Homo sapiens: one gene and its partners. The protein of the gene in region 4 purifies or fractionates together with the protein of the main gene of each other region. This does not show direct contact. Each region holds a gene or a part of one and is shown on either strand. Other genes may lie near its edges.

Region 1 (4,086 bases), on a different chromosome or scaffold from region 4:
TGGAATATCCACATTCTTTGAAAATGCAAGTTATGTAAGATAATTAATTCTCAATTAAGGAAAGAATCTCAGTTCTTTAACCATGACAAATAAGAATTTACTGACCATAAAACAAAGTTAAATATCAGTAAAGAATTATTTTATAAATAAAGAGGATATAGAGCACTAAGCATATTTTGCTTTTATCTTTTTTTTTTTTTTTTTTTTTGAGATGGAGTCTTGTTCTGTTGCCCAGGCTGGAGCGCAGTGGCATGATCTTGGCTCACTGCAACCTCCGCCTCCCGGGTTCAAGTGATTCTCCTGCCTCAGCCTCCCAAGTAGCTGGGATTACAGGTGCACGCCATCACACCCAGCTAATTTTTGTATTTTTAGTAGAGACGGGGTTTCACCATGCTGGCCAGGCTGGTCTCGAACTCCTAACCTCAAGTGATCTGCCTGCCTCGGCCTCCCAAGTGCTGGGATTACAGGCGTGAGCCACTGTGCCTGGCTAAGACCTAGAGAAAAATAGGTTTAAAATTTTGATTATTGCTTGTACACATTATAAGCCTTTGGGCCTTGAAGTATTTCCCTCTTCAAATTATATTAGACTAAAACACACATACATACACACACACACACACACATACTTCTGTGACTTAGTAGTTGCAGTTAAAAGTTAAATGCCTACATATACTGAACTGTGTGATAAATGGCTATGCTCCATCTTTCAGTGCTGGGCAACAGCATACCTCTGTTCTTCCTGCTTCACCCAAGAGCACTGAATAAACTCTTCCCTTCTAGGCTGCTGGCAGAAACATCCCAGATTCTCTTTTCTGCGGTGTTAGCATTGCCAATATTTATCACAAGAATCCCCACATCCATACTAGGCCTTCAGAGAAAAGGGATGGGATACCCACTCTGCTGAGTCCAGAGAGAGATGGCTAACTTTTACTGCAAACAGCATGATTCCTGTGCTGCTCATTCAGCACAGTGTTAAGGAGCCTGTGATAGGGTTTATCGCAGAAACTAAAATGCTTGTATGATAAAATGTGACTTACCAAAGAACATCTGGAACAGAATCAGCTCAAAAACTGGAGAACTACATATGAAGATGATGCCCTTAACTTAGAAATTTAGGGAAAAAAATGGAAAAGCTAAAAATGGAAATTATCTATTTCTTCGGTACTTTCTATATTTCTATGTAGTAAAGCACCTTGGGAGAGAAAGCATCAAGTATTATTTATGTTTGTATCCTTATAATTTAATCACATCTCAACTTTCATTAGGTTTGTTTTAATAACACACCTAAAATATCTATGAATAATAAATAGTTTCCTTACCTTTTGCATACACATGTCAGCTATTATGGACAGAGGTATTGTAAGGCTTAGTGCAAGTGTGCCTATCAATGATGAGGTAAGAAAGCAGCCCCTAAAAAAAAGAAAATATACATTTCTATATTTAAAAAATTAAACCAAAGAAAAACACTGAACAAAGACTTTCTATCCTATAATATAGGCCTGTGAGATCAGGAGCAAAGATAAGAGGCTAGGATGGATTGAAACATAAAATATAATAAAGTTATTAAGATGATTCTCAGTTTTTCTTCAAATATTAAAAATACAAATATATAAGTATAAAAAGCTCAAAATATTTTATGCTATTTTCAAGAGCTGTTTGCAGATCTTATTCAACTTTGGGTGTATAGCTTATATTTCATTAATTTTTTTAAAAAACTGTTGAACAGTTATTACCGTTTTGTGATGATTTGTAGATAACAAAGAAAACAGCATTATTAACATTGCAGGACAATACTTCACACATAGACTTTAAGGAAGTGATAAGCCAACATGTGATTCTGTCACCAAGCAAAAATATCTCACCTTCATGAACACTAAAATCATGTGTTACTCTTTTGATTTGGCTTGGCATAAAAAAAGAAAGACTTGAATATTCTTAAAAAATATTTTCTTGTTGTTTTCCATTTTTCTAACAATTGTCCTAACCAAAAGCTAAGTAAGCTCTTTATTTTCACCTTGAATTAACAATGTGGGTATGAAATTTTGAAATATCTATCTGCATACAATTTTGTTGAATTGAAAGAAAATATTATACCCAATGGAGACAGATGAGCCATTTATAAAGACTGATAATTTGGGCATATAAGGAGAAAATGAATTATAAGCCAAGATAAAACCATAATGTATATTGTTAGGACTACAGATCCATGGAAGTTATAGGCAAGTAAAATCTAGCTCAGTATATGTCAGAATTAATAGTGCTGTCCTGCAATAAAAGGGGCTATCTCTCAATAAAGTGTCACTAGAAGTAATGAACAGAGGCTGAACAACGAGTCCTTATTGATGAGGTAAAGGAAACAAGTACTTGTGGTTCCCACTACTTAGCTGCTCTGTGAAAAGAGCATTCGGGGTCAAATACAGCATATGTTCTTGGATGTTTATCATGCAGAGTACTATAATAAAAAACCTGGGAGGTAGAATTATAAAGCCTGTTTGACTTAATCCAGCTGTTAAGGTGGATCCAATTTAGCTAAAGGCTAAAGCCTTTTGTCATCTGTTAATAGTTAAGGTTAAAAAAATCGAGTATCTAAAATGTACATAACTAAAGATGAAAAAATTAATGAGCAAATGGATTATGATTTTAAAGAATTTTAGATCAGCAAAGGAGTTTAGATAAGAACATAAATTACTACAATACAAAGTAAATCTTTAAGTATTACACAAAAGAGAGTGATATGGGGGATACCAAGAAAATAGGTATTTCTTAACTGGGCAGGGAGACAGCACTGTAGGCAGAGCATTAAGGAAGACTCCACAAAAAAGTCTATTTCTGTTGCAGTCTTTTGCAAGGGAAAACTAGTTAGCAGTTTCAATGGGTATGTAATAAAACTCATTTTATTCACTTAGGTTTTATTCATTCTATTCATTTCAAGTTTCTATTAAATAAAAATAGGACTAAGTATAAAGCTCTGTTATTTGAAAGGTCTCTCAAACTCCATACATGATACTGTCTTCATACTATTTTAAGTTTATTATCGCATATCAGTATATTGGATATACAGCATATCAAAGTATGTTAACATCTCAAATCAATCAGAGTTTAAGGTTTACATATCTGGCTCACCCATATGAAAGGTTCTGAAAATAAATAAAACAAAAACACCTATGAACAAGCAAACAGATATTCCAAAGCCTCTTAAATAAGCAGCATCTCCTGGATTCTCAACTAGAACTCATGCACTCATACTTGGCATACATACCTCATATGTTTGGATATCCATTAGATAATGACTACTTTCATTTGCATAACACTCCACTTTCTAAAACATTTTTACAGATTTAGACCATTCATATTCATTCTTTCATTCAACAAGTATTTATTGAGCTCCTTCTGTGGACAAGGTACTACTCTAGAATGGGCACACAGAAGTTAAAAAACAAAGTCCCTGCTCTAGTGGAGTTAAAGTATTCAGTTGTATGTGTGTTGCAGAATGGGGTGCACAGGAAGGGCCACCAGCAAACAGACAAATATAAATGCTTAAAATATCCAAAAATTAATCAACTGATAATAATTGGAGAATAAACAGTACATACCACAACCACAGGAACTCTGAGAGTACTGTTCCAATAAGGCCATTAATGATAATGCACATTAATACTACTTTATTGGGAAACTCGAAGTCCTCAAATCCAGTATAATGAAGTAAAAAGAAACCTGGCCATAAGAGCAGCAGATTAAACAAACCTACAAAACCTGAACATGTATAAAAGAGACAAGAGTTAAAATTGATTTATTTCTATTTTCCAAGCTTATTAACTCTAAAATCAAAATTAGATTTTGCACAAAAGCACTCTGGGAGGTTTCCTTAGCTAAAACTTCTGTTGGTTTGTTTTTAAGTCAGTCCTGTGAATAGCTCAACGCCATAGAAAAAAAAACTGTCTGAAGCAACTGGTGATCACTCAGTTCAACTACCCACATTGTATGGGAGCAACTACTATGGAATAAACCACTTAGGACAACTCAACAAGAAGGGTTGTTAACCTTAGCTACTGATAATATAGTGCCCTAGAACTTAAAAGAAATAAC
Region 2 (4,086 bases), about 58 Mb from region 4:
ATTATACTAACGACAAGTTCAAACAATCCTAGAAAAGAAAACGGGAAACAGAAGAATCAAAACTCAGCTCCTGGGATTAGAGTTCACTTTTCACATGTCCATCTGAGTGCAAAATGGGATCCTAGACTCAAACATTATAAATGATCTGTTCTGGCTAATTCAGTATATTATAAACTAATCTCTCTTGGCTTCTTGGAATCTGGTCATTTCCTCATTTCCCTCGCATAAGTACTTGAAATGTTCTACCTAAAGTACTTCTTAATTAAACTATAAAGATATTTGTGAGACAGGATACTCCTAAGACATCTTTATTATTTAAATCTCTGGGAATCATCACTTCCTTCATATTAATCTTCCTAAAACCCATCTTTACACATTATCTCCCTGCTTAAAATATACTTTCCACTAAATACTTTAAATTTAGCATTTATTCCATACTCCACCCCTTTCGGATCTTTCCAACCTCATCACTCCTGTATTTCTACTCTAACCAGGCAGGTTTACTCAATGTCCTCCCACTGTCTTGGAAGTTTTACCTCTGTATCTTTCATCATAGGGGTTCAAGAACCTAAAATGTCCTCTCTCCCTTTATTTTAACTCATAATCATATCCATTTTTCAAAGCCCAGCCAATTCATTACTCTAGTATATAATTTTTTGTTCCTTCTTCTGAATAACTGACTTTTTTTTTCTTTTTTTTTTTTGAGACGGAGTCTCGCTCTGTCGCCCAGGCTGGAGTGCAGTGGCGCAATCTCTGCCTCCCAGGTTCAAGGGATTCTCCTGCCTCACCCTCCTGAGTAGCTGGGACTACAGGTGTGCACCACCACACCCCGCTAATTTTTTGTATTTTAGTAGAGATGGGGTTTCACCATGTTGGCCAGGATGGTCTCATACTCCTGACCTCGTGATCCTCCTACCTCGGTCTCCCAAAGTGCTGGGATTACAGGATTGAGCCACCGCGCCCGGCAATAACTAACTTCTTACTTAAAGTGTGGGGGTGCTGGTGCCTGCAAGCCTGAGTCCAAGTCTCAGATCTACCACCAACTCGTTACTGAAACTCTCTGTACACCTCATTGACTCACCTATAAAAGGAGCACAGTGATAGTACCTATCTCATAGAATTGTAGGAAAACAATGGACTGATTCTTGTGAAGAGCTGAGAACTGTCACTGACACATATCAGCCTTCAATAAATACTATGATTCTTGCTTTTTACATACTAGATCCTAGAAATGTATCTTGAAAAAGTTTCAGAATTTCACAAAAGTTTACTCACTACAGGGCTGTTTATAATACAAAAAAGAGTAACAATCTGAAGGTCTAACAATTAGGTATCATTTACATAACTTATGAATATCCGCACAGTACTATGACTAATATATTACATAATCTCAAGATTTTTTTGACATGAAAATACAACCATGTAAGTTGCTAAGAGAAACAAAATTCAGAGCCCAAACCACTATGCACCTCAGGACTTCATTTGTGTAATGTAAACAATGAAGTATACAGGCACAGAAAAGTGGGTGGTTGTATGCCAGAAGAGTTACAGTTTCTAAGAAGCAGAATAATGCATTTTAAAAATCTGTTTTTAACTTTCAGCAATGACATAAGCTACTCAAGTTTTTTTTAGAAGGTTGAATTCAATAATTAATAGAAAACAAATGCAAGGACCCATCTCTGATCACTCCAATCTTCCGCCAGACACAATCTCATCTACAGCAGACTTTCAGATTGATAGAAAAACTAAAGAAATGCACATGTGGCAAGACATGAACACATGAAAATAGAACATTAAAAAACAACTGAATAATTTGTAATTATTTTAAAAGATGAAAAAAAAAAGGGCAGACTTGTTTTTTTAAGGAAACTAACCTGTGCTTAGACTACTCTCTTCCTGACACTCGTGTTATTTACTTACCATATGGAAACTCTCCTAGGTCATCATGTAATTTGCTGTAACCTCTTATCTCCAGCAAGAACAGTGCAACAGTAAGAATACTTATCCATGGCAATGCCTGGACAGTAAACTTAATCTCTCGACGGACTTGATTCTGAAAGTGAAATTTCCAATACTTAAAAATCACAAAATCCATGTTAAACAAAACTAGCATAAAACTGTTCTGGACTGGATTTTTAAAATCTCTTTTACATGAAGGGGCTTACCTCCAAACTGTTTCTATTAAAATTTTAAATACATAAAAATAGGTATGTAAGAAAATCATTCCTTTTGTACTGAGAAAATGCAATAAGTATTTCAAATTCTGAAACCTTTTTTCCTTCCTCCAAAATCTGCATTCTAAACTTCTATTTATGGAATAACCATTTCTTTCCTAATTAACTTCCATCCCCAATCCTCTCTATTTTTTCTTTTTGCTGTTCAGTCCTTGGAGTCACTGACAAGTACAAACAACCGAAATTTAAAAATGATTGTAAACAACTTTAAAACTACTGAGTTTGAATCCCCTATCTAGCCAAAAAACAAAACATGGTAAAAAAACACATTTCAGTTTGTGAAAATCATATATTAAAATAATTACATAAATGTATGCATTTATTTACTCATCAATATCAGCATAAAAATGCTCCAATATGCATCTAGCAAGATACGATACTAGACTTATAGTTTTATTAAAAAGTTAGATTTGCTTAAACTAAGGGAAGGAGAGCAGGGATTAACCCTCATGAAAATATCTAACCCATTTGTGGTTGGTCTCCAAAATTTTATTTAATGGTTACATATAATCAGCTTAATCTAAAAATCTCAGAAATATATCATATTGTTATTTTTACTTTAATCGTTAGAAAATAGGTAAAAACATTTCTTACCTTTAAAAATTGTGGATGTTTCATTAATGCATGATCGAAGACAAAATAATAGCTCAGTGTTGCACAGAAGAAATAAAGGATGTAAGCACCAACATTTGTTACAATCAGAAGACTAATAGCTTGTCGGAAGATGTCATCTTCTGGCCATGTGGCTGGATACACGTATGGTGTAAAAAAATAGTAATCTGCAACACGGAGTACAAGATCCATCACTTAGCCCCTAAAAAATAAGCATGTGTGACAATTAGTTACCATGTCTCTATTTTTCCAGGCAAAAATTTTTCAGAAACACTATATCTCAAGTTCCTGATTTAAGAACAGTCATATGCAGTACATCTGCTGCTATCAGAATCCCCTACATGCCATCTTTAGAGCCAGAAGGGATCTTAGATATCATCTCTAGTCCAATCTCTTCATACTATGTATGGGGATGCTAAAGCTCAGTTAGAGAAACTGAGGCCCAGGAAAGGTCATCAAGCTGCTAAGTGGCACAAGCCCAGATGGAATTCCATTTCAGTGTCATTCCCTACCGCGTCCTATGGCAGCATGGCAAGTGGTAAAGATGGGAATGCAGGGGACTAGGTACTCAGACAAATAGTTTCCTCTTTCAGCTACAAGTTTCAGCTCATCTCTCTCCTTCAAGGATTCATACTTCAGAGATTTTTGCTTCAGCACTGACACCTAAGATAAATTCCCTAAAAGATATCCATGCTGCCACCACAACCATAGAATTGGGACTATCTGTTCTTCTGACACTCCCATTGACAGAACAAAGGAAGATGTATTCTTGGTGTTAAGAACTGGAATACATTTATTTCTCTACCTCTAATCAATATTCCAGATCGGGAGTTGGTAAATTGCAGCCCACGGGCCAAACTCAGAGCCTGCTTTGTAAAAATCTTTATGGAACACAGCGACACCCAGATGTTTACATACTGTCTGTGGCTGCTTTTCTGCTACAAAGGTGGGCTTATAGTATCACTGCAACAGAGACAGTATGGCCCGTTGAACCGAAGGCATTTACTACCTGGCCATTTACAGATAGTTTGCCAACTCCTGTTTCAGATGCTTAAACTCTAAAAAACATTAGTCAGTTCAGTACATATTTAAGTCCATTCTATACTCATGGTCCTGTTACAATACAGTTCGGTGATATTGTGGTCAGCTTTTGTGATCTGACTATGGAATCTATCATTTATGATCGACTCACTCATCCCTCATTGCATTGTTCGCACAAGAAAACGTGTTCAGCATCTAA
Region 3 (4,086 bases), on a different chromosome or scaffold from region 4:
GAGGTAGGAGGATCACTTGAGCCTGGGAGTCGGAGGTTGCAGTGAGCCAAGATCATGCCACTGCACTCCAGCCTGGGTGAGAGTGAGACCTGTCTCAAAAAGAAAAAAAAAAAGAAACTTGAAATAATTTCACAGGACTGGAGAATGCAACATGTATAGAGAGCAGCAGCCAGGTCATGAAAGGTCTCATACGCCACCTAAGAGTTTGAATGCTTTTGGCAGGCTGGTGTTATGTTAAGTTTTCCGGCCTTTAACGTTATTTGAAATTTTGAAAGTTATTCTTATTTTAAAAATACACAACTATTTATGGTATTGCATATGCTTTTCAAAACTGCATATCTCCTCTGATCTTACTGCAGGAGAGTCTCATAACCTCTCTCCCGAAATTCCTGCTATAGGCAATCAGTATACATGGAAGGGTGTGTGGGAGGTATGGCAGATTCTATAATAGACACTGGCTCATTCAACATTAATTCCAATATCCTTTTCCAGCATTTGTTTTGGTACTACAGAGTTTAGAAAGCCAAAAGCCCCTTCTCAGACTTCCTTGAGGCCAAGGTTTTAAATATTACCTAGGTTTCACCAAAAAACCCGGCCCATGTGAGGCCTCAGATGCAGAAATGAACAATGTAGGGGTGGTGATAGCACTTAGGAGCTCAAACAGCTGGGACTGAGGTCCCTGATGTCATAGACCCTGAGTGGCAGGTGATAACTTCAGTGAGGTTTTCTAGTTTAGTATTGTGGCATAGTTGGGTATTTCTCTTCACTATATAGCAGTTAAGCTTTGCATCCCTACTTTCCTAGAAAGTCTATAAATTGCCTGATACTGTATAATTAATCACTTTCTGCTTTAAATTAGTTACAGTAGATTCTGTTTTCTGCAATAAGAAGCCTAGTAATAGGTACGGCAGGATGGTGAATAAAGAGGTATATATATATAGATTTTTTTAAAAAGGTTCCAGCATGAAACCTGTAGTATATTTATTACAGATGGGCTCTCTAATCTTTTTAGATAGATTCTCTAATCTTTTTAGATAGATTCATACATACTTCTGAAATAGTTCTGGAAGGACTTGTTAGCTGAGGTACTTTTGTTCATTGTTTTTAGCTTAAAAATTAGGGCTCTGCCAAATTTCTTGTTTTAAAATAAACTTTTTTTGTTAGAGGGGAGACACCGATTCTTGGAAAGCTTTTCTTTATCTACTAATTGTGGGTGTTTTATGTCACCTTTCCTCAAATACATATGCTTCCCTAATGTATCTTTATCATCACTTAAGCAGTGGCCGTTTACCTTTTGGGTCACAGACCCAAATCTGCTACCCAAATCTGATAAAAGTTTATTGATACCTTACCTCCAAATACACATACAAATATATTCCTGTAGTTCCATATACAATATGAGTTAGACACCGTTCTCTTTCCTTATACCCTTTAAGTATATTCAGTAAATGAAGGTCAAAAATTCCTACTCTAGAATGACAGAAGTGAGGTCCAAAACCAGCATTAGTTATCTCTTAGAATGAAGGAGAAAATGTGGTTCAAAATCAGACATTTTTCAGAGAAATAGCTTGCTATCCTCCTCAATCAGAAAAATTTTTTTCCAAATCCCAAGAACCTGTGAATTAATAAATTATTTCCCCAAATACATTTTTTCCCCAAGAAATTTAATTAATTGTTTTTGAAATCAGAAAATTAAACAAATCGTCTCCCCCCACTTCCTCTGCCCTCCTATATATACTCACCATGTTTTGGGCTGAGAATGGGAAAGGGATCTCCTAGTTTCCAGAAGAAATACATAAAGGTCAGCCATAAGAGACAGGAAAAAAGCAGTCGTTGTTTATGCACTGAGACAGAGGAGACAAAACTGTTAGGAAAAACAGATATAGGTTAAAGAGCTTGCTCTATTTAAAAATATAAGATAATGCTAACTAATATTTGGCTGCTAATTCACTTGGCAAATGACTGATGAACAGCATAATTTTTAGTGAAAGCATCCTTACCATCGTAAGAGAAATTTAGCTGAATTTAAGGTGTGGGATGAACTAAAGGAGACATTATTAATAGGTAGAAAAATAAAGCTGTGGCAGAACAAATAACCTAATCATTCATTCAATATTTATTTTGTGCCAATTCATTCAATATTTATTTTATATTTATTTTTAAGATGTTGTGTGTGAGGTATCCTCAAATAGCGGTAGATACTGAAAGTTAATGTAGAAATGAAGCTATCCACAATTTAAGTCCCCTCAAATACTCATCTCAATCTATATGCTGACTGAGAGGGTAAAATACTTACGTAGTCGGATATTGCTCACAATAAAATAGCCAATGTAAAAAGGCACCATGAAAACCAGGATCAGCAGAATTACACACAGGTTCATTTTCCAGTGAAAATAACGGGAGCTGAAATAAATGTCAAAGACTGTCACTGGGAGGAAGAGAGGGCAGCAACTTTCTTTCTCTTTAGTCTTCCAAAGGGTCCTTTTGCTCTTTGGACTCAATATTGAATATATCCTATCTAATCAGCCTACTAGGCTCTTAAAATCTACTCATTTGTAGAGATTAAAAAATACAAATTTTTGAAAGGTATATATGACCATCTTAACATCTTAAGAATTTCATATATTAAAATAAGAATGTTTATGTTTTTGATATATTCATAGGCAACATATACCATTAACATGTATCAACATATGCCATTGCTGGTAGAATGACTATTGTTTTACCCACCCCTAGGAATCTCATTCCAATGTAAGAATTAAAGGAAAATAAATGTTAACAGTAATATATGTTATACTCAAAAATATTTCTTTTGTACTCTTGATATAAACACCTGATTTGCATGAATTACTTTTATTAGTTTATAAGATGTACTTCATTTATTAAAACTTTTTGTTAGCACTTTTTATAACAGTTTTAATGAGATATAATTTACCCATTTAAAGTGTACAATTCAATGGTTTTTGTATACTCAAGAGTTGTGCAACCATCACCTAAATCAATTTTAGAACATTTTCATTACGCCATAAAGAAACCCTGTACCCATTAGCAGTCACTCCCTGTTTCTCCCCAATCTCCTCAGCTCTAGGAAACCACCAATATACTTTCTGTTTCTAGGAAACCACCAATATGTAATCTTTTGTGACTGGCTTCTTTTACTTACCATAATGTTTGCAAGGTTCATCCATGTTGTAGTATCTATCAATAATTCCTTTTATGGTTGAACAATATTCATCCCATTATATGGATATATTATATTTTGTTTCTGCATTCATTAATTGAGGACATTTGGGTTGTTTTTAGCTATTATAAATAGAGACGCTAGGAATGTGTGTGTATACATTCTGGTGTGGACGTATGTTTTCATTTCTCTTTAGGTAGAAATGGAGTGGAATTGTTGGGTCATATGATAAATCTATATTTAATCTTTTAGGCACTCCCACTGTTTCCCAATGTGGCTGCATCATTTTACATTTTCCTCAGGAGTGTATGAGAGTTCCAGTTTCTCCTCAGCCTCGCCAACACTTGTTATTTTCTGTTTTTTTTTTGGTTATAGCCATTTTAGTTGGTGTGAAGTGGTATCTCATTGTGGTTTTGATTTGCATTTCCTTGATGGCTAATGGTATTGGGCATCTATTCATATGTGCTTACTGGCCATTTGTATATCATCTCTGGAGAAATGCCTATTCAGATCCTTTATTCATTTTTTAATTGTATTATATGATTAAACTATAAGAATTCTTTATATATTCTAGATACGAGTCCCAGTCCATTATCAGATAGGTAATTTATAAAAATTTTCTCTTGTTTTTGGAATGTTGGTTCACTTTCTTGATGGTGTCCTTTGTATTTACTGATTTTAAACTTACTTAAGCCTTGTTTCAAAAAAGGCCTAAGTGGTTAAATGGCTTACAAAGATAAATAAAATACAGGATGATGAAATGAACTATAAGGAAATATGAACAACAATGGTAACAGGTAAAATATTGGGCCAAGCCTGATGGCTATTATAAAACAGAATTCTAGAAAGTTGCTATGGGTAGGTCATAAATTTAGCTTTAAGTTTTCTAATGGTCAATGTGAAAT
Region 4 (4,646 bases):
CTGCACGTTGTGCACATGTACCCTAAAACTTAAAGTATAATTTTAAAAAAAAGAAAATGTGGCACATATATACCATGGAATACTATGCAGCCATAAAAAATGATGAGTTCACATCCTTTGTAGGGACATGGATGAAGCTGGAAACCATCATTCTCAGCAACCTATCGCAAGGACAAAAAACCAAACACCACATGTTCTCACTCATAGGTGGGAATTGAACAATGAGAACACATGGACACAGGAAGGGGAACATCACACACCAGGGACTGTTGTTAGGTGGGGGTAGGGGGGAGGGATAGCATTAGGAGATATACCTAATGCTAAATGATGAGTTAATGGGTGCAGCACACCAATATGGCACATGTATACATATGTAACAAACCTGCACGTTGTGTACATGTACCCTAAAACTTGAAGTATAATTTAAAAAAAAGAAAAAGAAACATTATGTTAAATGAATTAAGCCAGATATACAAAGTCAAGTATTTTATGATTCAATGTATAAATCAAATGTCCACAATAGGCAAATCCTTAGAATCAGAAAGTAAATTAGCGGTTGCTAAGTGGGATGTGTGAATAAAAATGGAGAGTTACTGCTAATGGGTATGGTTTCCTATGTGGTGATTAAAATGCTCTGTAACGATATAGTAGTGATGATTGCACAACTCTTTGAATGATCAAAACACATTCAATTGTATACTTTAAAAGGGTAAATTGTATGGTAAATGAATTATACTTCAAGGAGGTTTAAATTTTAATAGAAATTTTAGTCCTAATCAAGGTGACATTTTCTCCCATATTTTGCCTCCAATTCTTCCACAGCACATAGTGCATCTCACATAATATTTATAATGTTGGAGTGCAATTGTTTATGTACTCTCTCTTACTTACTCAACTATAAGATCCTTGAACTTGTCACACACGTTACTTTAGGAACTAGCATGGAAAAGGTCTTCACAAATACTATCTGAAAAATCAATAAGCCAGTAAAAGTAAACCTCCATATGAGCTTACTCCTCTGCTTTTCATCACCATCTATTCTGTCCACATTTCAAGCAATGTATTTCCAGCATGAATTTGTGGTGTGATTTGACATGAAGGAGAACATCAGTCACCAAAATGAAAGGATTGTACCACAGTACCCTTATTTTAGTTTAACTTCGACTTTTTTAGATTAACTCTTAATCAAAAATTGGTACTTAACAAGGAAAAACTTGCCTTCTGTTGTTTTCAGAGAAGTAAAAAAAGCACCTCACCTTTGAGTCGCCAAAATTATGCTTCCTGGAATGACCGCATACCATGTAGCAGGTTTATTTTAGTTTGTTTACAGAAAAGTGTAGACCAAAGTCCAGTGCTGACTTTGGGAGCTACTAAAGACATGAAAAAGTAGAATTTTAAACACATTTCATTGTAAACGACTGGGAGTATCTGAGCAAATTATTTCTTACGTGACTTTAGAGAAAACGGCTACCTATCTGACCCCAAAACGACTTGAGGAAACTGTTTCCACGGTCCTGCTGCAGAGGGGAAGCACAGTCGTCAAGAAGAGAGTGGGGTCAGGATCAAAACACATTTAGTGTGACTTAGGGAAAGAAAACATTTTCCCTCTTTGAACCTCTCTGGATACAGTCATTTTGCCTCTACTTGAGGATCAACTGTTCAACCTCAATGGCCTTTCAGGACCTCCTGGGTCACGCTGGTGACCTGTGGAGATTCCAGATCCTTCAGACTGTTTTTCTCTCAATCTTTGCTGTTGCTACATACCTTCATTTTATGCTGGAGAACTTCACTGCATTCATACCTGGCCATCGCTGCTGGGTCCACATCCTGGACAATGACACTGTCTCTGACAATGACACTGGGGCCCTCAGCCAAGATGCACTCTTGAGAATCTCCATCCCACTGGACTCAAACATGAGGCCAGAGAAGTGTCGTCGCTTTGTTCATCCTCAGTGGCAGCTCCTTCACCTGAATGGGACCTTCCCCAACACAAGTGACGCAGACATGGAGCCCTGTGTGGATGGCTGGGTGTATGACAGAATCTCCTTCTCATCCACCATCGTGACTGAGGTAAGAGGCTCTGTTCTCGTCTCATGAGTATGTGACCTGGGTGTTTAGAATAACACAAGTAATAATCATGCTTCCAGCCTTCAGTCACATGTAGGTCCTTAGTCTTCATTCTTTCAGCAAATACTAATTGCTTCTTTATTAAATGTCTGACACCTACACATTTTGAGTAATGAATTCCAAAGTAGAAGGCATCCTGCTATTATAATGCTTTAAGTCACAGGGAGACCAAAGTTTAAACAAGCATTTATATATAATATGTTAAAATGTTCTGCTAGGTCAGTGATGCTCAGCCTGTCATTGCAAATTAGAAATATCTGGGAAATTGAGAAAAGCCTCCATGCCCAGAGTATACCCTAAAACAATCATATGAGAAGGTCTAAGAGGGAAATTTAGGTTTCTAAAAGTTTTTAAAGGTCTTCAAGTGATTGCACCATGTGGTCATGTTTGAGAACCATTTAGTATGAAATAAAAACCTATAGGTTTAGGAAAGTCTTCCAAGAGAAAGTTATGTTTAAGTTGAGACCTGAATAACAAAGGTCAGGTAATGCTGAGAAAGGAAGCCACAGAGGAAGTTAGAGACTTAATATTAGGAAACTTGCAGATCATGCTAAGAAGTTTTGATCAAGTTACACTGAGGGGTAATAAGCATTGATGTGCTGGCTTCCTTCTCTTCCAGTGGGATCTGGTATGTGACTCTCAATCACTGACTTCAGTGGCTAAATTTGTATTCATGGCTGGAATGATGGTGGGAGGCATCCTAGGCGGTCATTTATCAGACAGGTGAGTGTGTATGGAACACAGCTCTCTTTAAGGGCATTTTTTATCAACTTATGAAACATTATTTCATCTAGAATTACTTACTGCAAATTACATTCTCCTGAGGCTGCCCTGATCCCCAAACAGAAAAGGAAATTTTTAGTCCGTGTTTTGAGTGCTATTTTTAAAATTTGAGCTCTGTATGCAGGACACAGAAATGATATCTCCATGTGAACTGGGGGTGTTTCAAGACAGGTTTTAGAGAGAAGGTACCACAACATGTGGTTTAGAAATATGAGAAAGAGTTAACTAAGGGAATAGAAAGGAAGACGTTTCATCACATAGGATTCAGCCTTGGCCAGGAGTACCAGGTCCAGTCCTACCTGGACACTGTGAGCTGATAGCTTGTGCCCAGAGAATTGTCATTACATCATAGTTCCAAGTGTGATGAACACGCATTCCTCTAAAACCTGTAGGGTATATTTGAAGGTATCATTGGTGGTGTGTTGAAAAATTATGTGTAGAAACTTGATTATTGTCTTTGCAAAAACAGCTTTTTAGAACCATGTGAGGTAAGTAATCCAAGGATAATACTATCTCAGTCTGTGGTGTGAGAAGTTTGGGGTATTCACCTTGCTGTATGTCTCCTGACATGGCAGGGAACAATTACCTTCACCCAACCATGTCTCCCCTGATGGCGATGAGGGACTTGAAGTGCCACTTGCCATCCACCAACATCATGTCTTCTGGTGTCTCACCTGAAAATTTGAACCTTGAATGTACGACAGGAAATGGAATGTAGAATGAGCTAAGAGTCAGAGGGTTAATTTCCAATAGTTAGTCACCCAGTCCTCTGTGATACTGTCCTGGGAAAATGCAGATAGACCAATTTTAATAGATCACAGGGTGGTAAAAGAAGGGGTAGGAGATGCCAGGCAGGAGATGACAGTGGAGAATCAGCTAAAGACGAAGGGACAAGATAACCTAAGGATTTTGGTATTTCTCACAAACCTAAGAGGAAATATTATGTGATTATATGCAGAGTAGGCTATGATCAAACTGATTGTTTTGGAATAACTCACTCAACTGTTTATGATATCTTAAAATCGGAAATAATCTATAATTTCATTAATAATAGGTTAATAAATAAGCAGATATTCACATAATGAATTTTTACAGCAAAGGGAATGAATAAAGTACTGTCTGCAATAAGGTGAATTAACATCAAAACCATTTGGTTAGGTACCACAAGACCAACAAAAAGATTACATACTATAGTGTTCCACCAATGTAAAAGTCAAAAACAAGGAACTACATTATGATGTGAGAAAAGGGAGAAATCTAATTTCCTTTAGATTTCTATTGGAATTGCATTAAATCTAAACAGCAGTTTGGGTAAGACTGACATTTTTTAAATACTGAATTTTCTGATCTATAAATATAATATTGCTTTTAATTAAGGTAGACTTTTGTTTAATTTCCCTTTGCAATATTTTATAGTTTATGATAAAAGTCATGTACTTTTTATTAATTTATTTCTAATTCATATGTAAAGATAATTTACATGTAAATTATGTACATATATGTAAAGATAATTAACTTTTTCATAGTAAACTTACATCCTGCCAACAGGATAAATTTATTAGTTCTAGTAGCTATTTATGGATTCCTTAAAATTTCCCAACTTGATCATATCATCTGCAAGGTGGAATAGTTCAAATCACTAATGTTCTACTTTTTCCTTTTAATCTCTTTCTAGCAGTAGCTAAAACCTTTGATACAATGCCAATGACATTGGTGAGAGCTGAAATCCTGCCTCA
Region 5 (4,086 bases), on a different chromosome or scaffold from region 4:
GACTTCTCAGCATTTATAAAACATGCCGAATGCTAAGAAGGGAAATGGGCAAAGCACACAGCATATCACATACTACCAGAAGCTGCCTCCTCTGTTTGATTTCATATCACCCTGTGCTTATCCCATTGTAGCCGTTGGATGTTACATAGTCTGATGACTGTGGTCATGAGACCATATCATAGAGGCATGTTTGTCTTCTGCTTCTAAACTGTTAGATCCTTGAGGATAGAAACTGTGGCTGAAGGTGAATATCTAGCACCTTGGAAGTTCCTGGTCCATAAAATGGCCAAGAAAAGAGAACGATTGTTATACATGTAATAGCCACTCCAAAGACATTTGTCAAACAAATGAATGCAAAAGGAATAACAGCTGCTGTGTCTCCTGGTGCTGGTTTCTGCCTACCTCCTTCCAAGTATTGTCCAGATCCCCAGCCTTAGACTTGTGATGCTGTCCAAAAACGGGTTTTAGAGAATATTTAAAGGACAGAGAGAGGACCCCTGACTTTTTAGGGTTTCCATTTTAACATGAAGCAGCCTCTCTGGTGTCCCAGTCTTGCATGTAGAAAGGAAGGAGATGTGTTCCATGTGAGTAGCCAAGGGAGACCTATCAAACAGCTGTTTGTCATGGACATGGAATTTCTGATTCTGGGGCTTCTGTTTAGATTCTGGCTTACTCCCTGCTCAGGTAAAGAACTGCAAAAATATTAACTCCTTATGCGTCAGTTTGATTAAGCAGAATTTTTTTTTTTTTGAGACGGAATCTTGCTGTGTTGCCCAGGCTGGAGTGCAGTGGCGTGAACTCAGCTCACTGTAAGCTCCGCCTCCTGGGTTCACGCCCCATTCTCCTGCCTCATCCTGTAGTTGCTGGGACTACAGGCACCTGCCACCACGCCCTCCTAATCTTTTTGTATTTTTTTTTTAGTAGAGATGGGGTTTCACCATGTTAGCCAGGATGGTCTCGATTTCCTGACCTCGTGATCCACCTGCCTCGGACTCCCAAAAGTGCTGGGATTACAGGCATGAGCCACCATGCCTGGCCCTGATTAAGCACATTTAAGTTTGAGGTAACAGCACGTCTCCCTTCATTGGATCACTCGGTAACTGGAAAACATACCTATTCTTGTAATGACACAAATGAAGTGGAGAAGCTATTTAAATTGGGAACACATCCAATGTTTTATTACATTTGAATTGCAGGGTCGGTATTCTTCAGTGCCCTTCATTTTTCTTCCAGCACTTTAATGTAATTAAAAGGCCAGCCTAGAAGGTTTTTACACTCGCAACTCTTCTATTTTATCTTCTCAGAGTTTCCAAATGTTATGCGTTTGAATTGTAGCCATTCCAGTAGTCCCCGTTCTCTTTGGGGTATATGTTCCAGGACCCACAGTGAGTGCCTGAAACCACAGATAGTATGGAACCCAATTACCATCCATCGGAACACGTTTCTGTTCGTGCCTTCCACCCACAAATGTAATACTTTTCCTATTTTTTTTTTTTTTTTTTTTTTTTTTTTTTTTTTTTTTGAGAGAGAGAGACCGAGACAGGGTCTTGCTTTGTTGCCCAGGATGGGCTCGAACTTCTGGCTTCAAGCGATCCTCTCACCTCGGACTCCCAAAGTGCTGGTATCACAGATGTGAACCATGGCACCTGGCCCTGCCTTTTCCATCTTAGCACTTCTCACATACTGTGGCCTTAATTTTTGCAGTTTGAAATGCCACAGCAAAACTAGCACAATTTCTTTTCTTTACAGTTGCACAGGTAGAAGATTCATTCTTACTGTAGATCTTAACCTCAGCATAAGATTGGTTTTTTCCTTATTAGTTGAGAACTTTCACCTTTTCACTTAAAGGATTTTACAGCTTCTCTTTGGCTGTAAAATTGCCAGCATCACTACTCTCATGCTTTGGGGCTATTATTAAGTCAAAGAAGGGTGACTTGAACCACAAGCACTGCAGTACTGCAATCCTCAATCCTGTTAACCTGGACAGCGACTAGATGACTAACAGGCGGGGAGCATCTGCAACGTGGACACGCTAGACAAAGGGATGATTCACATCCCGGACAGTGGAGCAGGACAGCATGCAATTTAAAACTTATGCTTATTTCTGGATTTTTCCATTTCATATTTTCAGAATGCTGTTGACCTCGGGTTACAAACTGCAGAAAGCAAAACTGTGGCTACGGGAGGACTGCTGTAGTTTTATAAAGTGAATGGTAGCATTGATGCATTTTTGTGAATAGTACTGCTTTAGAGGTCACATTTCTAATGAGCTTGTTTGTGTATACCTGCGTTTTTTATGTTCTAGTGATGTTGGAATTTGGTAACATTGTAATCACATGTGTCTAGAGAATCTGAACTCAAAATTGGTGACCCTTCAGGGGGGAATAAAGCCATTTAATGTGAACTGCTAAGAGCCAAGGGAGCCTTGATTCTGGAACCTAGAGCTAGGCTGCACAGCCTAGTTCCTTGCACAGCCCAGCACTCTCCAGACTGTACAGACAGTAGAGTCTGTCTCTACTCTAGCAGAGAAAGACCATTTTCTTTCCATATCCTTGATGTTACTGGAGAAAAACCCAGGCTTCCCCTGTTACCGGCCACCTCAGGATCATTCGGATCATGCCCCATTCTTTACCTACTTGCAGCTCTCAGTAGTTCTGGGGACAAGGTAACTGCTGAGTACTTTTCTCCAAATCATGTGCCAAGAACCATAAAGTCAGGGGCATCTAGCCAAGAGGCAACAATTTATCAATGAAAGTGCATTATAAATATATTTATTTTGTAATAATTGCTACAAATTGAAAGTGGAATTGGACATAGAGTCTCTGTAGATTGAAAGTAAAATCTTCTGGAATACTTTCCTGCCTAAACTCAGTCTTTAAATTAGATATATTTTTAGCTTCTTGAATATGACGTTAAAATATTAATATTCCTAGCCTAGAAGATTATATTTAGTCCTTTCTGAAACCCTTTCTTATATAGATGAACATTTTGTATCTGAATGGAAGTTTATATAAATAATTGCTAATATGGCCATATTGCTATCTGTGTCCAAAATAGACTCTGCTGTTTTGAAATCCTTGAGGATTTCAGAAAGTATACATTTGCTTGTTCTAATATTATCTTGTATTATTTCAGAAATCCTGCCAGAAACCTGTAGACAAATATATCGAGTATGATCCTGTTATCATCTTGATTAATGCTATATTGTGCAAAGCTCAGGCCTACAGACATATTCTTTTCAATACTCAAATAAATGTAAGTTGTGATAATTTCATTTTTTAATTTTATTTGATGCTGTTACATTTTAAAAGAATAATAAGAATTTTAAACAGAAGTAAAGAATATTATAAAAGAGGAAAAGAAATTCTAATGTGAGAGTGGGTCTTTTATTGCAACATATCTGGAAGTTTCTAGAAATAATAGATGTTGATTTTGAAAGGTGCACAATGCTTAGTGAGTGTTTAAGAATATGGTCACTGGCAGGAAACTGACAAGCCATGATCTGAATTACCTGCTAGTAAATTGAAACAATCATCACTGGTTTTTAACAGAATACAATTAGACATATCCAGGTAGGGAGAGAATTATACCTAAATGAGTTAAGCAAACATTAAAAGAAAAATGTTTTTTTAAAACATAATTTATTGCATTTTATACTTTGCTATTAAAGGAATGTATAAGGTAAATAACATTCAGTTTAATCAAAGTCCTGATTTATAAAGTTGAATTTTTCAAAATAAACTTTTAGTTTATTGAATTGTGAGCTCTTTAATAGTTTGGGTAGAGTTGACAGATAACATACAGGACAGTCAATTAAATTTGAATTTCATATATACCATGAATTAATTTTTTAGTATAAGAATGTCCCAAATATTGCATGGAACATACTTATACAATAAAAATGGATTCATGGTGTGTGTGAAACTCAAATTTAACTGGCGGTCCTGTTATTTTATTTATTTATTTATTTTTGAGACGGAGTCTTGCTCTGTCACCCAGGCTGAAGTGCAGTGGCGTGATCTCGGCTCACTGCAGCCTCTACCTCCTGGGTTCAAGTGTTCTACTGCCTCAGCCTCCCAAGTAGCT
Region 6 (4,086 bases), on a different chromosome or scaffold from region 4:
CCCAGAGAAGTCTACTCAAACCAATAGTTAACTGAGTTTAGAAATACAGATTGAGTATCCCTAACCTGAAATGCTTAGGACCCAAAGTGTTTCAGATTTTGGTATATTTGCATTATATACTTATTGGCTGAGCATCCCAAATCTGAAAATCCAAAACCTGAAATGCTCCAATGAGCACTTCCTTTGAGCGTCATGTTGGTGCCCAAGATTTTTCCCATTTTGGAGCATTTCAGACTTTGGATTTGCAATGCTCAACCTGTAGAAGGAGCGTATACTAAAACCAACCAGAATGCACATACCTCATCAAAAACTTCAAGTCCCATAAAATGCTGTAGGCAATCGTCTGAGGGGAAAGAAGAGAGAGATACTTGAGTCTCAGCCTTTCCAAAGGCATTTCCACAGACTTCATAATACATTAGGCCGTCTCTCCAATGTCAGCTGGAGTCTAAAACACACAAAACCATTGTAGGAGACCGAGGACAGATCTAAGCTCAAAAATGTGGTTCTGTATTTCTCAAGAAATGTGCTATGATGTTCCAGAGAACAAAGTGATTCTGAGACCACTGATGTGGATTCAGATATTCTGTTCCCAGCATTTCATTCTGAATAACCAAGTATTCTTCTTTATGAAGCAACGTGATAACAAGACAGCATCCTGGCTGCAGCCAAGCTCGAGACTTCCCTTGTCACGGTAATCATAGAAATGGGACAAAAGATGGCCCAGTACCGAATGACCTGCCTCTACAGCCCTGCTTGGGCTCACGACTTCCCCAGAAGAGAAAGGAGCTCCAGGCAGTCAGAGACATGCAGGGGGCTGAAGGGGGAGTGACACTGAACCCTCAAGGATGTCTTTTCAGAAGCTCTGCTCCACCAGAGCAAAGAGAAGGGAGCCCCGACCACGCGGCCCGTGTACCTGCAGAGCTATGATTCCAAAGAGCCCGAAGCAGGCGTACTGCACGAAGTTCCTGCTCAACACCAGGACGCAGCCAGCTGGAGAGAAGGACAAGGGTTAGGGGGCCTGAGGGTGGGTGCCGGCGGGGAGCACTGTCTTGATACACTGCTACCTCACCTGGCCCTTAGGTCCAGAGGCAGCCAAACCACCTACCCAAGCAAAAGACAACTTCTGGAAGAATTAATGATAGGCAAGGACCACACATGGTAAGCTGACTAGACTTATCACAAACACCAGAAAGTGGAGCCCTTGCCGTCATAAAGAATGGGCTGTTTCCCACAATCAGCTCCCAAGTCAGCCACCCACCTGAGGTAGGCAATTAACTGCTCTACTGTGGACTGCCAGCCAGACTCCAGCATCTCCTGCTTTGGGTCCCTGACAGGGACCATGTCCTATTTCCTTAGCAAGCTCTAAAGCAGTGAGCTCAGGGCTAGAGACTAAGCGTCCCCACCAAGGCTTGCAGAACCGGACTCCTGGCCTGGCACAGCTGAGCTGGAGAAGAGGGGAATGGAGGGGGGACAGCAGTCCAGGAGACCCCCGAGTTCACACACAGCCTCCCAACTGCTAACGATCATGGAACAAGACGCCCAGTGAATCCTGACCACCCGCAGAGCCACTCACTCAGCTGTCCCAGCAAGTTGAGGAAGACGAAGGACGAGGCCAGCAGGTAGCCGCAGTTCCAGGTGGTGTCGATGTAGTCGCGCTGCTCGCTCCACTGGAACCACATACGGATGCCGTCCTCCAGGAAGGTGCTGATCAGACAGAGGCGCGCCACGTGGGGCAGGTACTGCTTTGTGACACGGAGGAACTGCAGGGCCACAGAAACCCAAGGGTGAGGTGGCTGCGGCGGGGAGCACCAGGCCGCTGCCAGGCACGTCCTTGGGCGGGGTGTGTGAGGAACAGACGCTGTGGAAGGCAAGAGCTCTTGTCAGCCCCGGTGCCTTCCCAGGGCAGACTAGGGGGCTCTCAGTGCTTGCTCCTGAGCGCTACCCTGTGAGTCTGGACACATGCAACAATCCAAGGATCAGTCCCGGAGATGCATGACTTGACGTTAGGCCCTCTGGGGCAGATCCTATAGGGCAGCAGCCCTAACACTCTGCTACCGTGATTTCCCCCAGTGCCTCGGCAGGCAACTACAGTCTTCCAAGGTGGCACTGCCACAAGACACAGAGCTGCTCTTTTCGGTCAAAGGCATTTACAAGTTGGAATCACAGAATGACATCTGAAAAGGCACTTAGAGGTCATCTATCCAACGTTTCTGCACCTCAGCACTACTGGCATCTGAGGCCAGGCCACTCTTTGCCGTGGGTCATCCTGGGTGCTGCAGGCTATGACGCACGACATGTCTGCCCACGACATGCCAGCAGCAGCCTCCCTCCTGAGGCACCGCTGCACTTTGCCAGGCATCTCCGCTGCTCTGGTCCAACCCCTCACCTTACAAATGGCTATATTAAACCCAGCGGGAAGGGGTTCCCCTAGGCTTCGCAGACCTGATGGTGCAATGCCAAGACTTGACCCCAGCCTGCAGGTCACACATGGCTGAGGTGCCAAGGGCCTGGACCTCCCAGCCTGCCCAGTGACGCCCAGAGTACCCTGACAGAACAAGGGTTGGCTTAGGTGACAGCCAGGGTGCCACACCTAGAGGGCCACATGGTTGACTGAATAGTAAGATCACGTTTACAGTTATCCGAAAATCTCCAGAGCAGCAGGAGGAGGCCCCAGGCTCTGGACAGCGCATGTGTGCTGTTGCAAACCAGGGCTGGCGCTTCCCAGCCCGACGGAGCTCTCCCCTGCAAGCTCAGGATCTGACGTGGGGACTGTGTGTGCAGCAACCGTCAGCGCAGCATGAAGCTGGTACCGCTAATGGCTAGAAAGCGCTGGGATTTTGTCAAAGCCTGCATAATCTCGAGCAAATTAAAACACACTAACAAATGGGATGGACAGCTGTTTCAACAGCAATGAAACGCAAGTGTGTGAAATCACTGTCAAATGTCAAAGGGAAAGAAAACATTTATGACTTCCTGCTGTGCTGTGAGTCAGGTCATTTATGACGGCTGGGTTAGGTAGCCAACATGCACTATCGGATGCCAGGTACAAATGTCACGCAGGTTCACCCCATGCACTTTTCTCTTATCACCCATGCAAAACTGAGATATAAAGTGAAAGAAATACTGTAACACAGCAAGTCCTTCGGAGAAAGATCAGGGGACCCATCCACCAACGCATGTTGGGAAGCCAGAGTCTAAAGAGCACCCGAGAGGCTGACCCCCACGGGAGGCGAGCGAACGTCAGCTGCACAGGCCTCCTAGGGCTGACTAAACCTACTGTTGGAACAAAGGAAGATATGCGTGTTTCTTATTTTTCAGCATTTTTAAAAGTTGCTTCAAAGTCCTAGACACTGCTGAAGCTGCCCATCTCAGTTACCACGCCCCTGGGTGTTCAGGTCACCCTCCAGCCTGTCAGGTGGGGCCCTGACTAGGTCAGCACTGCAGATTGGCTCCCATGTGGCAGAGAACGGAGGCAGAGATTACAAAGCCAGGTGGCCATTCTCCCCAAACCCACTGCGCCCTGCAGTGTCAGTTCTGCACACATTTACTCAGCCTTTGACTCCACGGAAGTGATGGGAGAAATCACAGTGACCGACAGATACCCAGAGAATCACCAAGTGGGTTTGGGAGATGAAGTGCAGGTGGAGGTTCTGAGGCCCTGTGATCTCATCCTGCCCTGGTACCATCCAGCCAGCACACCGTGTGACCTGGACACGCCCAGTTACTTTTTTGAGAGTGTCTCTACTATCCTGCAGTAGAGTGAGGCCACCTGAACTAATGGTTGGTAAGATGCTTTCCAACTTTACTAGGAGGAAGACCTTGTTTCACTTTTTATTTTTAAAAAGGCCCCAAATACTCCCCTGTGAATTTTAGGGCCAATGCAGAGAACCAGCACAAGATGCCCATGTGCACAGTGTGACGCAACCTGCATCACACTGGGTGGTGGGAAAGGTGACGCCACACACCCTCCCCAGGTTCTGCCTCATGGCCCCGTTGCTCTCTAAATGCCCAGCAACAGTGTAATCACCCATATTCCATGGAAGAGAGAAAGCACACCACCGTGGCACACGATGTGCCACTGCTCTC
Region 7 (4,807 bases), on a different chromosome or scaffold from region 4:
ACTTGACACATTTTCAACATTCTCTTTCGGAACATGAAAGCACCTGAACCTCCCAAACTGACTAAAACGTTTTGAAGGAAACTAGATTAAATGGAACCCTTGTTGAAGAACCAAAAATTAGGCTTACCCAACTGGATACTTTAAAAATTGATTTTTTACTCCTTGAAAATGCTATACGTTCGAAGAATCGAAAGAGAAAAAGGCTGGATACTTTGGAATCCTAGGAATCCTAACAGTAAAATATCCTACAAATAGAAACTTAAGTCAATAAGGTATCTTTCATTCATCTTTGGTTGGTTCATTGGTTTTAATTTCAAAGACAAACTTATATTTCTTTCCTTTTTACCTTTAATTTCTACTACCTACCTGGGAAAGATGGTAACCACAGAACTGCTGAACTTACATAGTCATAGCTATAATTACATAATTTTCAAAAACTTATGTAAATTTTATTAAACAATTTGTTTCCAATTAATACATTTCTCCAGACTAATTTTTAAAAAACCAATGCCATAAATCCACATTATAGAAAAACAAAAGGAAATTTGAAAGAAAAAATATTTATTTTGGAATAATAAGACTAACTAGCAGAGATATCTTACAAGACAGTTCATATTGGACATGTATTGAAAAGGATGTCTCTCTGAACTGACCCACTAAGTTATTTATAAATTCAACCCCCTAACTTTCCTACTCCCTGCCCATTTTTTTTTTAAAGTAATACGATTTCAGCCGGGCATGGTGGCTCATGCCTTGTAATTCCAGCACTTTGGGAAGCCGAGGTGGGTGTTGATCACTTGAGGTCAGGAGTTAGAGACCAAACTGGACAACATGGTGAAACTCTGTCTCTACCAAAAATACACAGATTGGCCTGGTGTGGTGACGTGCGCCTGTAATCCCAGCTACTCAGGAGGCTGAGGCACGAGAATCACTTGAGCCCAGGAGGTGGAGGTTGCAGTGAGCCAAGATTGCATCACTGCATGCCAGCCTGGGTGACAGAGTGAGACCCTGCCACAAAAAAAGAAAGAAGAAAAAAGTAATACAATTTGGATTTGGGTATTAAAAAAAAATTCCTCTGAAGACCCACAGTTTCTGAGAAATACTTATCTAAACAGGAAGCATCACACTTGGGCAGGATAAAGCTTTCAAGAGCTTGCCCTTGATTTTAGCTCTTTTAGGTTAACATTCCCATGACTTTCCTATTCAGCTAAAGAGATTTCCTTGGACTTATTCCCTTACTCACTACAATTCCTACCTATACTTTAGGACAAAGCTTCAGAGCCCAAAAGGAGAGCCAGTTGGTCCTAAAAATGCTTTGTCCACTCTGATGCCAAGGTGCAAAGAGCATGAAGCGACAGACAAGGCATAAGAGATAGCCGCCTAGACTCGTCATTGAAGGCTGCCAAAATCGGGTCCCTCCTGTCGGGAGTATCTCCCTCCTCCCAAACTTCACTTGAGACTCTCATCATTACAAATGTCAACTGCATAATCTTTGCAGTTACTCCCCACCTGTGCATTAACATAAAGCAGCTTGCTTTATTGGGTTAATTCAAAAGAGTTATCAAGTACCTACTGTGCGCCAGGCACTGCTGTAGGTACTAGAAATCTAGCAAGCAATGAACGAAATGACAAAAATCTGTGTCTTCCTGAAACCTATATTCTGGTAGAGGAGACGTTCAAGAAACAAGCTAAAGAAACAAAATATGCAGTACGCTAACTAATACATGCTCAAGAGAAGACAAATGAAGCAGGCAAGGGGAATATACACTGTGGTGGGCGGGGTAGGAAAGGTTGGAATTTTAAGATTAAGTGGTCACACATAATCAGGCAGATGGTACGTGCCTAAAAGGGTAGCCAGAGCAAAATCAGATGGAGTGGGGAAGAGAAAGGAAGTGCGCTTATTTTAACAAGTCCTGAAGTGGAGAGAAAACCCTACGGGAAGGGGGTGAGGCAAACACTGAATATGGACCACTGAAGACAAACGCGGATTTCACATTTTGCCTAAAGACCAGTCCTTTGAGGATGGCACAACAGATGTTCTCCCTTTGTAACCAAAGAACCAGGCTCTGCTACTAAAACTGTCAGGCAGTTCATCGGACACGGGTGAACACACACACACACACACACACACACACAGCTTACTGTCAGGCAGTTCATCGGACACGGGTGAACACACACACACACACACACAGCTTACTGCCGAGGAGAAAGAAGCGTTACTAATCCAGAGTGGAGGACTGGCCTGGGAAATCGGGCAGAGAGAGGAGTTGTCGGAAAGAACACACCAGAAGCCCCTCCGAGCCCAGACACTGATAGAAACCCAGCCGCTTCCCAAGCCAATCTGCAAACCCAGGAGGCACCCACGAGTGCACAGACACACCCCCGGGGTGCAGGCGCGGTGAAGGGAGGAGAGGGGCAAGAGCTTGACCGTTAGGGCCCGAACCCCAGAACTCCCGAGGCAGGGTGTGTGCCGCGCGCGGGAAACGCCGTTCTCCGCTCCAGGCGTCGGCGGGCGGTGGCGAGAGCAGGTTCGGGGGTCCGGAGGGTCGGAGGGTGGGCTGCGCGCGGGAATGGCCGCCGCGAAGGAGGGGCGGCTTCCTCGGGCATCCCGGGCGCCCGGCCCCGTGCATGCAACAGGGGACTGGGCGCGAGCGGGCGCCTCGAGGTGCCGGGGCGGGACCGGGGAGAGGGGACCGAGACAAAGTTCCCGAGACCCGCGGGCCTCGGGCCGACCCGCGCGCCCCCGGCCCAAACGCTCAGCTCCCGCTCCCCAGGCCCGCGCGGACCCGGCCCCTCCGAGGGTAGCGGGTTCCAGCGGCGAACCCGCAGCGCCCGCGCCGGCGCCCGCTCGGCCCTTTCCCGCCCGGTGCGTGGGTCCAGGAGAGAAAGAAAGCGCGGCGGTGTCGGTGGCGGCGCGCGGCCCCACTCACCATGATCCGCAGCGGCTGTGGCGCGGCGACCCGGGCGGGCGGCGATGCGCTGTCCAGGGTAGCCGGGTCCCTCTGCCCGGCGCTATCTCGGCGCCCGCGCCGGTTACCCCCACCCACACCCACGCCCGGCGCGCGCACACCCGCCCGCGCCTCCCCGCCCCCTCGGGCTCGCGCCGCCGCCGCGCGGCGCTCCGAGCCTCGGGGCCGTTTCGTCCCCGCCCCCTCTCCCACAGGGGCCTCGCCGGCCGCCGCGCCAGGAGGGCGCGCGGGGGAGGGGCGCAGGGCAAGTGAGGCGGCGCCCCCCGCCCCTGCGGCCTCGCGCGCCCCCTCCTGGGCGACCGACCTCGCCCTCGCGTCCGCGGCGTCCCCTGCCGGCCGGGCGGCGATTTGCAGGTCCAGCCGGCGCCGGTTTCGCGCGGCGGCTCAACGTCCACGGAGCCCCAGGAATACCCACCCGCTGCCCAGATCGGCAGCCGCTGCTGCGGGGAGAAGCAGTATCGTGCAGGGCGGGCACGCTGGTCTTGCTTACAGTTGGGCTTCGGTGGGTTTGAAGCACACATTAGGGGGAAATGGCTCTGTTCCTGCAGGTTTGCGCAGTCTGGGTTTCTTAGGTTTAGGGGGTTGGGTGGGTTTCTCTGGGGGTGCGGTGGGAAGCGGATCAGTTCGGATAACGGCCCTGAGCAAGAGTCTCTGTCCCGCTCCCGGCCTGACGCGGGGCTTCCAGCGGACACGACCAACGGTGAGCGCACCCTCTTCACTGTGAACAGAACGGTGGCCTCCTAGAGCCTGCGCTTCTAGTTACTTTAGTTGTGTGTGTGGCCCAAGTGAAAGACGTCGAAAAAATTGGACTTGCCTGAGTATTACATGAACTTTCTTCCATTTCTCCCTCAAGCATGGGAAGTTGGCGGGCGTGGTGGTTCCCTCCTGTAATCCCAGCACTTTGGGAGGCTGAGGCAGGCGAATCACTTGAGGTCAGGAGTTCGGGACCAGCCTGGGCAACATGGCGAAACCCCGCCTCTTAAATAAAAAATACAAAAATTAGCTGGGTGTGGTGGCCTGCGCCTGTGATCCCAGCCACTCGGGAGGCTGAGGTGAAGGATGGCTTGAGCCCTGGAGGTGGAGGCTGCAGTGAGCCGAGATCACGCCACTGCACTCCAGCCTGGGCGACAGAATGAGACCCTGTCTCAAAAAAAAAAAAAAAAAAAAAAAATGTTTACCACATGTGAGGCTCATGTGGTAAACATGTTTATTGGGGTTGAGAGCAGCCCGTGTGGCTGTGCACGGAGGTACCTGCACCATACACTTAGCATCCCACACCTGGGGCGGTGTGGGAGCCCTTGCAGAGTTTTGTGCAGTAGCAGAGTGAGTAACTGTAGGTACCGGGGCTAAATCTTAACTGTCATACAATCACCTAATATATAGTTTCCTAATAGAGAGTTTTTCTTCCTAATATAGAATTTCTGTAGCTGAAGTGGTAAATATTAGGCATATATTTGTTTATAAAAGGCGGATGATTTTATGACCATAAACAGGTTAACCTAGTCTGATAAAAATCTCAGGAGTCAGCTCTGCCACATACTGGGTGTGTGGTATTGGGTTGGTTACCTAAACTGTCTATGCTCCAGTTTCCTGATTTACGAATTTGGGATAAAATAGCACTTAACATTACATGTAGCTGTTAGGGTTAAATTAATATGGGTAAAACTCTAGAAAAATATCTGGTACAAAAGTACTAGTTATTGATTTGTTATCAATTTGATGCATTTGAGAATCAGAAAGTGATATTCTATTTAATGCTGGCATATTTTTATAAAAAAGTGTGGCCCAAATCAAAGATACAATTTGATTTCAGCTTCACTTACTTTGTTCACTCAGCA

Evidence for each region.
Region 1: the proteins of SLC22A9 (region 4) and SLC35F5 purify together in Homo sapiens (affinity purification with mass spectrometry; 2 studies listed by BioGRID and IntAct, with this or other methods). This does not show direct contact.
Region 2: the proteins of SLC22A9 (region 4) and SC5D purify together in Homo sapiens (affinity purification with mass spectrometry; 3 studies listed by BioGRID and IntAct, with this or other methods). This does not show direct contact.
Region 3: the proteins of SLC22A9 (region 4) and GPR89A purify together in Homo sapiens (affinity purification with mass spectrometry, with the first as the bait; 3 studies listed by BioGRID). This does not show direct contact.
Region 5: the proteins of SLC22A9 (region 4) and ARV1 purify together in Homo sapiens (affinity purification with mass spectrometry; 2 studies listed by BioGRID and IntAct, with this or other methods). This does not show direct contact.
Region 6: the proteins of SLC22A9 (region 4) and SURF4 purify together in Homo sapiens (affinity purification with mass spectrometry; 3 studies listed by BioGRID and IntAct, with this or other methods). This does not show direct contact.
Region 7: the proteins of SLC22A9 (region 4) and ELOVL2 purify together in Homo sapiens (affinity purification with mass spectrometry; 3 studies listed by BioGRID and IntAct, with this or other methods). This does not show direct contact.

The regions. Positions count from the first base shown.
Region 1 is NC_000002.12:113,721,785-113,725,870, forward strand, and holds part of SLC35F5 (solute carrier family 35 member F5), read right to left. Parts: intron 3,754-4,086; coding exon 3,594-3,753; intron 1,411-3,593; coding exon 1,320-1,410; intron 1-1,319.
Region 2 is NC_000011.10:121,302,328-121,306,413, reverse strand, and holds part of SC5D (lathosterol oxidase), read right to left. Parts: intron 3,049-4,086; 5' UTR 3,039-3,048; coding exon 2,829-3,038; intron 2,054-2,828; coding exon 1,921-2,053; intron 29-1,920; coding exon 1-28. UniProt on the Homo sapiens protein: Catalyzes the penultimate step of the biosynthesis of cholesterol, the dehydrogenation of lathosterol into 7-dehydrocholesterol (7-DHC).
Region 3 is NC_000001.11:145,621,371-145,625,456, reverse strand, and holds part of GPR89A (Golgi pH regulator A), read right to left. Parts: intron 2,404-4,086; coding exon 2,297-2,403; intron 1,865-2,296; exon of another isoform or gene 1,845-1,864; coding exon 1,743-1,844; intron 1-1,742. UniProt on the Homo sapiens protein: Voltage-gated channel that enables the transfer of anions such as iodide, chloride, bromide and fluoride which may function in counter-ion conductance and participates in Golgi acidification.
Region 4 is NC_000011.10:63,368,389-63,373,034, forward strand, and holds the start of SLC22A9 (organic anion transporter 7), read left to right. Parts: upstream 1-1,396; 5' UTR 1,397-1,668; coding exon 1,669-2,070; intron 2,071-2,746; coding exon 2,747-2,850; intron 2,851-4,646. UniProt on the Homo sapiens protein: Sodium-independent organic anion transporter, exhibits high specificity for sulfated conjugates of xenobiotics and steroid hormones such as estrone 3-sulfate (E1S) and dehydroepiandrosterone sulfate (DHEAS).
Region 5 is NC_000001.11:230,985,185-230,989,270, forward strand, and holds part of ARV1 (protein ARV1), read left to right. Parts: intron 1-3,135; coding exon 3,136-3,255; intron 3,256-4,086. UniProt on the Homo sapiens protein: Plays a role as a mediator in the endoplasmic reticulum (ER) cholesterol and bile acid homeostasis. Participates in sterol transport out of the ER and distribution into plasma membranes.
Region 6 is NC_000009.12:133,365,686-133,369,771, forward strand, and holds part of SURF4 (surfeit locus protein 4), read right to left. Parts: intron 1,859-4,086; coding exon of another isoform or gene 1,761-1,858; coding exon 1,574-1,760; intron 991-1,573; coding exon 914-990; intron 344-913; coding exon 300-343; intron 1-299. UniProt on the Homo sapiens protein: Endoplasmic reticulum cargo receptor that mediates the export of lipoproteins by recruiting cargos into COPII vesicles to facilitate their secretion.
Region 7 is NC_000006.12:11,041,298-11,046,104, forward strand, and holds the start of ELOVL2 (very long chain fatty acid elongase 2), read right to left. Parts: upstream 3,009-4,807; 5' UTR 2,934-3,008; coding exon 2,931-2,933; intron 2,529-2,930; exon of another isoform or gene 2,461-2,528; intron 1-2,460.